3 linked regions of the Homo sapiens genome follow. The protein of the gene in region 3 interacts with the protein of the main gene of each other region in a pairwise test. Each region holds a gene or a part of one and is shown on either strand. Other genes may lie near its edges. The genes, in order: TFF3, HNF1B and PCBD1.

Region 1 (3,753 bases), on a different chromosome or scaffold from region 3:
GCATTGATATTCTCCCCACTCCAGGCAATTTTGAGTGCAGCAGGTGGAGACCACAGCACCTGCAGAAGCTCCTTGCGGGGGTCCTTCCCCAGCAGGTCATGAGGGCCGGAGGGGCAGCAGTCTGTTCCTGGGGTGTTTGCACCCTCCTGGAACTCAGCCCTGCACCACGACCTGGCCTGGCCTCTGGGTACTAGGAGCAGTGGGAAGGCAGGGAGATCTCACCAGATCCCCCAGGGAGATCTCACCAGATCCCCCAGGGATTTCCCCTACAATGACCTTTTTAATAACATGAAAATCCTGCTGTCCATTGATGAACCTGGGTCCGCTGTCTCCCAGAAAAAGTGAGTGCCCCGAAAACAAGGCAGGCAACGCTCTTTCCTTCTTCCTCCTTCGCTGGCCTCAGCGGGAGTGGCACATCAGAGGCCAGGGGCCCTCAAATCCATCCACAAAGGGCGTGCTGAGCGCAAGGGCGGGGCCTGGGAGTCACAGGGCAGGACACATCCTGGTGCTCAGCACGTACGCCATCGAGCTCCCATGGGTCACTCGGGGAAGGGCAGTTTGTGGATGCACCCTTGGAGGCTCAAGGCCGCCCTGCACACACCACCGGGGACCCCAGCTGCAGGCTAAATCCAAGCAGCCAGGCGCTCCCATTTCTCGGGGTGATAAACCAAGTCCACCCTTCAGACAGAGGCTCCTGGAAGGGCCAGTGGGGGTCATCAAAATGCCTCCCTGGAAAAGAAACACGGAGAACACAAAATCTAGGGGCCCGTTTTCCTGGAATGAGATTAGTCTCTTGCCCACTACCAGCCAGTCCACTGCAGGAGGTTGGGGGGTTGGGGGATGCTGCGGATGCCGAGGGCGGAGGCTTAGGGTCCTGGGAGTGGGTTAAATACCAGCTATACCAGGGACACTGGAGTAACCTCTGATAGGCACCGGAAATGTTGAGTCTTAGTTTCTTCCTCTGGAAAATGGATAGAATCATCGCTGTCTCATCTGATATGTTGTTATAAAACAATTCCTGAGATGTAGTCTTTAGTTTTTAAAAGAGCACGCTGGGCAAAGGTGGAGAGTCAGTTCCTGTTTGTGTTAAAAATGTGGCCGAGTGCAGTGGCTCATGCCTGTAATCCTGACACTTTGGGAGGCCAAGGAAGGCAGATCACTTGAGTCCAGGAGTCTGAGACCAGCCTGGCCAACATGGCGACACCTGGTCTCTAAAAAAATACAAAATATTAGCTGGACACATGCCTGTGGCCCAGCTACTTAGGAGGCTGAGGTGGGAGGATCACTTGAGCCCCGCGAGGGCGGGGGTCTCAGTGAGTTGAGATTGTGCCACTGCACTCCAGCCTGGGTAACAGAGCAAGACCCTGTCTCCAAAAAAAAAAAACAAAAAAAAAACAAAAAAAAAACAAAACAAACAAACAAACAAAAACAAACCAAAAAAACGTGCTTAGATCCAGAGAGAAAAATTCTGAAAGGATACCTAAAAAAGTGTTCACAATAGATCAATAGATGCCTCTGGATAGGAAAGGCTCTTTTGTATTATTTGATTTTAAAAATCAATTATGTGTACCATGTTTTTACTAACATATTTTCAATCAATTCATTTCATCCACTTATTAAAATGTAGTTACTAATTTTTAGGGGAGAAAGCAAAAAGGAAAGACAAGGAATCTCTGTGTTTCAGGAGTTGTGAGAGAGCCGCAGGGTCCTGACTCACTCAGAGCTGCCTGTCTCCGAGGCCGATCTGGGATGAAGCAGCCTGGGGCTCTCTTGTCATGGGACCAGGGGTGTTCTGAGGGCTTCTGGCTGGGAGGCTGAGATGGAACGGACACCACACCCTGGTCCTGCCACCCCACATGGCTCCTGCACACTACACCAGGCCAGGCTAGGAGGGCAATTGACACACATCCGCTCCCCAGTAGAGGACCCGGAACCAGAACTGGAATCCGCCCTTACCGCTTGCTGCCAAAACAGTGGGGGCTGAACTGACCTCTCCCCTTTGGGAGAGAAAAACTGTCTGGGAGCTTGACAAAGGCATGCAGGAGAGAACAGGAGCAGCCACAGCCAGGAGGGAGAGCCTTCCCCAAGCAAACAATCCAGAGCAGCTGTGCAAACAACGGTGCATAAATGAGGCCTCCTGGACCATGAAGCGAGTCCTGAGCTGCGTCCCGGAGCCCACGGTGGTCATGGCTGCCAGAGCGCTCTGCATGCTGGGGCTGGTCCTGGCCTTGCTGTCCTCCAGCTCTGCTGAGGAGTACGTGGGCCTGTGTGAGTACTGCCCTGACTGCCCCGGTGGCAGGGTGGGCGTGAAGGGAAGGGATCCAGGATAAGGGGGGATTCTGCATTCATTTAATAATGGCCACCTGTCACATATACACTTTTTCCTGCGCTAGCCCTTTGAAGTGGGTCTTTATTGTCCCCATTTCACAGACAAGGAAACCGAGGCTCAGAGAAAGTTAACAACTTATCCAAGGCAGCCCTGCCCAGTCTGTGTTGAAATCAGGGTTTGAGCCTGAGCCCATCCCCTATGACCCCATAGCCATCTTTGCTGGAGATTTCTAAATTACAATATAGGTCTTTATGCATTGTTCCACATTTACAAAGAAAAAGGAAAGATGCAGGAGAAAAACCCTGACTTCAGAACACTGTCAATACCGGCAGGCACAAGGTTCATTTAGCCATTGCATAGCAACCCTGCCATGGGGTGTGGCTGCTCCATTAACCCAAGTTTGAAGGAATGAGGGCATGGCTTTTATCTGGGTGTCTTCTGAGCAGGGTCAAAGGCAGTGGTTCCCGAACTTGCAGCCCATTAGAATCACCTGGAGAGCTTTAAAAATCCTAATGCTTGGGGCACACCAGTTACATCAGGGCATCTCCAGGCAAGATCCAGGCCTCAGCTGTTTTGTTTTGAGATAGCCTTGCTTTGTCACTCACTGCTGGAGTGCAGTGGCACAATCTCAGCTCACTGCAACCTCCGCCTCCTGGGTTCAAGCAATTCTTGTGCCTCGGCTTCAAGTAGCTGGGATTACAGGCATGCACCACCATGCCCAGCTAATTTTTTGGATTTTTAGTAGAGATGGAGTTTCGCTATGTTGGCCAAGCTGGTCTCAAACTCCTGGCCTCAAGTGATCCTCCTGCCTTGGCCTCCCAAAGTGCTGGAATTACAGGTGTAAGCCACCATGCCCAGCCAACGTCAGTCATTTTTAAAGCTCTGCAGCTGATTCCAGTGTGAGCGAAGTTTGGATGCCAGGAGGATAAGCAATTACGGACTGGGAGCAAGAGAAGGGAATGTAAGACACTGCACGTGATTGCCATTTTCCTAAGGAAATACTCAGTTCGTTAATGAAACGCAGTGAACTTCTGCTGCACATACAGACATAGAGGCTTGCCTGAAACATGAAAATATTGGGGACTGAAGGATGTCCCGGGAGGGTGGGACATGCTCAACAATTCAGGAAGGGGAGATGCAGAAAAAAGTGAAAAGCAGGCAGCATGCGTTGCAATGATCTCTATGGCGTGTGCCTCTCCTGTCACGGTTTTCATTTAAAACAAAGGGGCAAGGTTTTGTTGGTCAAACAATGAAGGGTAACTTTGTTTCTGGGTTCAAGGGACCCCAGATTCCCCAGGGGTTCCTGCCAGCTGGAAGGTACCCAGGTCCGTATGTGACTTCCCGAGAAGGTGATAAGAGCGTGCCAAGGAGAAAGACACTTAGGCAAATGGCCAGAGTCCCCGAGCTGAGCATTTAACAGACTG
Region 2 (3,753 bases), on a different chromosome or scaffold from region 3:
TTCCAGGGGAGTATATTCTGGCAATGAGAGAGCGGCCCTAGGATCATCTCAAAAGCGTTTGCTCCTCTGAAAACCCTTAAACCAGATAAGATCCGTGGCAAGAACCAGGATGGTTGGGTTGCCGAGGCAGTGAGGCCCAACCTTTGCTTACCTGACAGCTTGTTTGGAGGAGAGGAGCTGGGCTGGTGGTGGGGGGAGCCGTGGGAGAGCAGAGGGTTCAGGCTGTGAGTCTGGTTGGAGCTATAGGCGTCCATGGCCAGCTTTTGCCGGAATGCCTCCTCCTTCCTGCGGTTTGCAAACCAGTTGTAGACACGGACCTCAGTGACCAAGTTGGAGCCCAGGCCGTGGGCTTTGGAGGGGGACACCCCTCGCTGCAAACATTCTGCCCTGGGAATGGATGGAGGGGAGATGGTGAGTGAGGGGGGGCGGGGGGACTTGTTGGTGCTTGGCCAAAAACACACAATCACAGCAGTCTTGGTTGGGAGTATGAAGGGGCCGTGGGCAGAATGGAAGGCTGGGGAGGAGAGGCCTATGCAGAGAAAAGGCCAATCCATGGAGTGATCTGATGAAGATGGCTGAAGTGGGCCTGAACGCAGGGACAGAGCAGGCTATGCCGCCCTGGGAGTCAGGGGCTTAGGCTCTGGTGTGGCTCTCGAGGAGAAGAGAGCAAGCCGGGGACAGGCAGTCCAGGGGAAGGTCCAGATGGGGCTTCCTTATTTAGCCATTCTTCCCACCACATAAAAGGCAAAGCCCTTCGCTGGCTCTGTCTTGAGTGGCTTCAAAGCACTTCGAGAGGATTTCTGGTCTTTTGGGGCTTGAACTCCCTGAAAGAGTGCCAGGAAGCAAGATGCTTTATCCCCTCCAAAAGGCAGGCTGGGTGGGGTACAAAGCAGGGTGCATTGAGATGGCCAGTCTCTAGCTTTATCAGGGCTGGTGAAACCTCAAAACCAGGTGCGAGAGATTCTTAGACACTACTGGGTGCTGCAAGGCATCTCATTAGTCGGGGTATGGAGCACAGCCTGAGGACTCAGTGGCAATACAGGCCTCCCTGCTTCCCAGCCTGACCTCCCTGGCTGCATTCTTCCCACAGCCAAGGCCAGCCCAGCCCAGAGACAGAGAAAGCGCACACAGGCCTTGGCCAGACCAAAGAGCTGAAGTTTTAGAAAGTCAATACTGGAGTCAGGGAGAACAGGGCAGGAATGAAGTAAAAAGATTTCCCAAGGCTTTCCAATCGTTTAAAAAAAAATAGCTGGGCCCTGTGGCTAGAGCCTGTAATCCCAGCTATTTAGGAGGCCAAGGCAGGAGGATCGCTTAAGCCCAGTTCAAGATCTGCTGGGCAACATAGCAAGACCACATTTTAAAAATAAATACTTAAAATAACACAGAGTTGTTTTTTTGTTTTTTTGTTTTTTTTTTAAATAGAGATAGGGTTTCACCATGTTGCCCAGGCTGGTCTCAAACTCCTGGGCTCAAGCAATCCTCCCGCCTCGGCCTCCCAAAGTGCTGGGATTATAAGTGTGAGCCACCGTGCCTGGCTGGTAGTTAACAAGTAAAAAGAACTCTGTTGAGTCAGCGGGGGCAGAGTGGACTGAACAGATCTGACCAATTCTTACTCTCCTGCCAAGTTTCCTTTTGGACCACTGCATGTCTGACAATTGGTAGAGGCCAGATCTAGAGTCTGTGGCTAAGGGAAAGTTTTACCCTGGCCTGCAGGGAGGTCAAACACACAATTTCGCTTCCCAAGTATCATATTTTAAATTAGCATTCTCCAGAGTATCTTCCCTGGAAGAATAATTCATGGGGTTGTTTGTACTCTACCGAAGATTCCATAGTTAACAACCAATTCAACAAAGCTAAGTGGGTTTCTTGACTGCAGGGCTTCTCGGAACCTTTAATATATGTTGTGACTCTCTAAGGGGAAGTATCCATATGCTGATTCTCAGACTTACTGATTAATGAATTGATATTGGGGTTCTGTGGAACATACTTTGAGAAGCTCTGATTTAGCCACACTTATCTGTATAACTAGTGTCTCAATATCCCAGGACCGAGGGGAGGGTTCCTGGGTCTGTGTACTTGCCCACCTGCCCAGGTGAGCTTCTGGTGGTGTTACCTGTTGCATTCCTCCACTAAGGCCTCTCTCTCTTCCTTGCTGGGGTTCTTTTGCCGATCGTAGGCCTGGTACAAGATTTGCTGGGACGCGGGCCCCCATTTGAACCGGTTGCGGCGCATCTTCTTGTTGGTGGGCTCAGAGCAGGCATCATCGGACTGCCCAGGCCCATGGCTCTGTTGACTGAACTCTGGAAAGAGAAACAGCAGCTGATCCTGACTGCTTTTGTCTGTCATATTTCCAGAACTCTGGACTGTCTGGTTGAATTCTGAAAAGAGAAAGGAGTAGATTTGATAGGGTCTGTAGCCTTCACTCAGCAGACAGACAGACAGACAGACAGACAACGGACGAAGACACCTTTATTCCCCTCGTCTAACTAAGCTTTGCAACCTTCTCTCACTGCATGTGGAGCTGGAGATGGGGAGCCCTCAGCACAGGCCCTTACTGCCCACCTCAGTTGCTCCAGCAAAGCCACCCTTTTCCTTTCTTTGAAGGAGCTCAAACATAGCCAGCTATAGTTTTAAGAAAATTATTATTTTTTCCCCTTTGGCTCACTGGCCTTCAGAGATGAAGCAACACTCTGCATCCTGAACTCCTGTATTTGATGTCAAGTGGGTGAGCTCAATCAAGTCTCACATCCAGGGGAGAACTGCTCAAAGGTACAATTTACACTTGCACAAAATATTCAGAGGCTGTAGATAGCACTCCCCACCTCTCCTCCCTCTTCCTATATCCTAGGTATCTACATTATAAAGTCAGGTTTTTAGAAAAACCCCAAACCTTTTGGAACATGCTTTGAAATAAATATAACTGGAGCTTTGTATTGGAAAAAGAAAATGTGCTTTAGATCTCAAAATAATTTCAAAGACTACAAACACAGGACCTGTCTGGGAGTAGTGTTTAATTAGCTGGAAATGATGCTCCCTGTCTGTCCAATTCCTTGAGTCCAGGCATACTGTGACCATCAGGAGATTTTTGTGGAATGAATGAGAACCAGCAGCTCGGCCCAGAGGTGATGCCTTAGCCCACATGGTTTAATGAGATTTGATATCTACATTACCGAAGAAGAAAGCTTTGCTGTCCTCGTCTTCACATCTGCATGAAGCAGGGCTCATCAGGAGTGATTAATTCCATTTTAAAGATGAATAAACATGGAGGCTAAGCACTCTGCTGAGCAAAGACACGTAATACATTCATCTCCTAGCTCTGGGTCCCTATGTTCTGGATCTTAATATCTTTTTTTTTTTTTTTTGAGACAGAGTTTGCCTCTTGTTGCCCAGGCTGGAGTACAGTGGTGTGATCTCGGCTCACTACAATCTCCGCCTCCCGGGTTCAAACAATTCTCCTGCCTCAGCCTCCTGAGTAGCTGGGATTATAGGTGTGCGGCACCATGCCCAGCTAATTTTTTGTATTTTTAGTAGAGATGGGGTTTCATCATGTTGGGCAGGCTGGTCTCAAACTCCCGACCTCAGGTGATCCACCTGCCTCAGCCTCCCAAAGTGCAGGGATTACAGGTGTGAGCCACCGTGCCCGACCTTGATGACTTTCTTTCTCAGTTCCTGTAATTACTCCCACAGGTCACAGAAAGTGGAAGGCTACCACCTCCCTTTGTGATGTAAATGATGTGCCATCATTTACATGCC
Region 3 (2,709 bases):
CCTGTCTAACTCAGAAAGTATCATCTTTGGGGATTGGAGAGCCATAGGAGGATGTGTCTTGGGCTCTCCCTTCCTGGAACTTTTAGCAGCAGTCTTCTGAGGAGATAGTTCAAGTGGAAACCATGCACATCTGAAGACATTTGAACAGACGGCCAAGACTGGCCAGGCCAAAAGCCTGTTGTGGTGTTTCCACCTTGTTGACATCCTAAATAGCAAGACTTTCTTCCTACTGCAAGGACAATCTCTAACTCAAGCCTGAGAACCAGTGACAGGATGTCAAGGGGGAAATGATTATAGAGGAGTCTCCTGGGGGGAAGCTAATTCATCCTCCTGCGTCTAGGCCTTGAATTGGTGATGTCCAGAAGTCCTTTCTCTTAGAACACTAACCTGGCTCTCACTCCACTTAAATAGGCCTTTGGGTTCATGACAAGAGTGGCCCTGCAGGCTGAGAAACTGGACCACCATCCTGAATGGTTTAACGTGTACAACAAGGTGAGTGATGCTGTGTGCCTCTGTTGTGCTCTGCCCCCATCCAAATACTGCGAACTCTGACACATTCTGAAGGCTTTTGGACTTAACAATGAGCCTTCCTGACCCATAGGTCATCCACTCATCTCATTTCCAATCTCACTGAGATTGCACATGCCTAGAATCAACATAAATACCCCTGGGAAAAAAAAATCAGTCTTACTATAAAGAAATGCAAATTAAAAGATGCATGAGATAGTTGTGGTTAAAGTAGACATTTAAGTAGACATTAAGAAGGCAAAACCCAAGAAAGGAAAGGCTGTGGGAATCAGGCATACTTATTCAGTGTTCATAGCTCTAAATGGCTTTAATCTTGCTGGAGGTATGGAAGAATGAAAAAGTAATAAACTTGAACTAAGAATACACACATATTTGGGAGGCCGAGGTGGGCAGATCACGAGGTCAGGAGATCAAGACCCTCCTGGCTAACATGGTGAAACCCTGTCTCTACTAAAAACACAAAAAAATTAGGCGGGCGCGGTGGTGGACGCCTGTAGTCCCAGCTACTGGGGAGGCTGAGGCAGGAGAATGGTGGGAACCCGGGAGGCGGAGCTTGCAGTGAGCAGAGATTGAGCCACTGCACTCCAGCCTGGGAGACAGAGCAAGACTCCGTCTCAAAAAAAAAAAAAAAAAAAAATACAGACACATAGCCAACCTATCAAATTATTTGCTTAATGAATAGAAACAGTCATTAAATGTCTACCATGTGCCAAAAGCTCTGCTGGTCTCTGTTTATAAAAACAGTAAGGGTGGAAGAGGTCGTCTATGAATGGATAGTGTTTAGGAGTTGGCATTGGTTTTTGGTTTTGTCTTTAGCTTTTAGGTTGCTCTTGACATTCAGATATTAAGCTTTTATTCTATAGCTGAAGTCATGATTATTTTTGAGAGACAGCAAAGGGGAGATGTAGAAGATGTTGTTACAGACATGTCAGGAAGGAGTCCCCAGGAGAGATCGTACTGGCCAGCTGCTATTCTGGAGCTCCTAGCAGGGCTGAGCCCAGCAGCTAGTGACTCCCTCCTGTTCTTAAGTGAAGTCAGTGGAAGCAGAATTTCTGGTTTCATTTCAGGTCCACATCACGCTGAGCACCCATGAGTGTGCCGGCCTTTCAGAACGGGACATAAACCTGGCCAGCTTCATCGAACAAGTAGCAGTGTCCATGACATAGACCCTGCCCTTCCTCTTTGAATTCTTCCGGGGGAAGGGGTGACTGAACTGGGAGTCCAGGGAGGGAGCTGAGGAGCCCTTACCCTCCCACCACTCCCCTCCCAAGACCCAGCCGCCGCCGTTGAGGGCTGAGTCCTTGCTGTGGGATGTGCCAGTGTCCCCACCAACACCAGGAATTTAGACCTTTTCCCTGCACCACTCTCTTCATCCTGGGGGCTCTGTTACACTAATTTGAATAAACTCTCCCCTTTCTTTGCAACTTCCCAGCAACAATAATGATTTTCTTGCCAGGCCGTCTCTTGCTCCCTAATTCATTTCCCAGGAAGCTGTGATACAGGGTGAAATAAAGTCTTGTCTTAGAAACCAGGACCCTAAACCCCACACTATGTAATAGAAACACATGTGTTTTTATGTCTCAAATAAAACTATTATATCACTTGGTCTCAGGCTCTAGAAACTTCTTTTCCACAGGTCAATCCAAATTGGAGTCAATAGGCATTTAAATGAAAGCACTTCCTCTGTGCTAGGCACTTCCTCTGTTCAAGGTACTGGAAAATGACAGGGACCAGACCACCTTGCCTTCAGATTCATTATCATCTAGGGGATACCATTTGATTATCATCAAACAGGAACACAATTAACTATTACCAATTACCAATTAACTAGTACTAATTAACTATTACTAGAGTGAATTAATGCTAGGTGGCAGGATAAGAAATGAGCTAAAGGGAACGCAAGTGATTAATGGTGAAAAGGGCAAATCTGGAGGCTTTGAGTTATGCCTTGAAGACCTGGGTAGGATTCTTGGGAGGCAGAGATGGCTGAGAGAACACCATGAACACAGATAAGGGTGTGAAGGGCACAGGTATTATATGCATTGTGGAACCTATGTCTAGAAAGGCAGTCTGGGGCCATATTACAGGTTGAACATCCCTAATTTGAAAATTGGAAATCCAAAATCTGAAACTTTTTGAATGCCAACATGATGCCCAAAGGAAATACTCATTGGATCATTT

The links.
Region 1: the proteins of PCBD1 (region 3) and TFF3 interact in binary tests that used the Homo sapiens proteins (3 or more experiments, as listed by UniProt).
Region 2: the proteins of PCBD1 (region 3) and HNF1B interact in binary tests that used the Homo sapiens proteins (3 or more experiments, as listed by UniProt).

The regions. Positions count from the first base shown.
Region 1 is NC_000021.9:42,313,808-42,317,560, reverse strand, and holds the start of TFF3 (trefoil factor 3 precursor), read left to right. Parts: upstream 1-2,151; 5' UTR 2,152-2,186; coding exon 2,187-2,268; intron 2,269-3,753. UniProt on the Homo sapiens protein: Involved in the maintenance and repair of the intestinal mucosa. Promotes the mobility of epithelial cells in healing processes (motogen).
Region 2 is NC_000017.11:37,731,444-37,735,196, forward strand, and holds part of HNF1B (hepatocyte nuclear factor 1-beta), read right to left. Parts: intron 2,379-3,753; coding exon 2,114-2,378; intron 388-2,113; coding exon 152-387; intron 1-151. UniProt on the Homo sapiens protein: Transcription factor that binds to the inverted palindrome 5'-GTTAATNATTAAC-3'. Binds to the FPC element in the cAMP regulatory unit of the PLAU gene. Transcriptional activity is increased by coactivator PCBD1.
Region 3 is NC_000010.11:70,882,935-70,885,643, reverse strand, and holds the end of PCBD1 (pterin-4-alpha-carbinolamine dehydratase), read left to right. Parts: intron 1-411; coding exon 412-492; intron 493-1,595; coding exon 1,596-1,694; 3' UTR 1,695-2,134; downstream 2,135-2,709. UniProt on the Homo sapiens protein: Involved in tetrahydrobiopterin biosynthesis. Seems to both prevent the formation of 7-pterins and accelerate the formation of quinonoid-BH2. Coactivator for HNF1A-dependent transcription.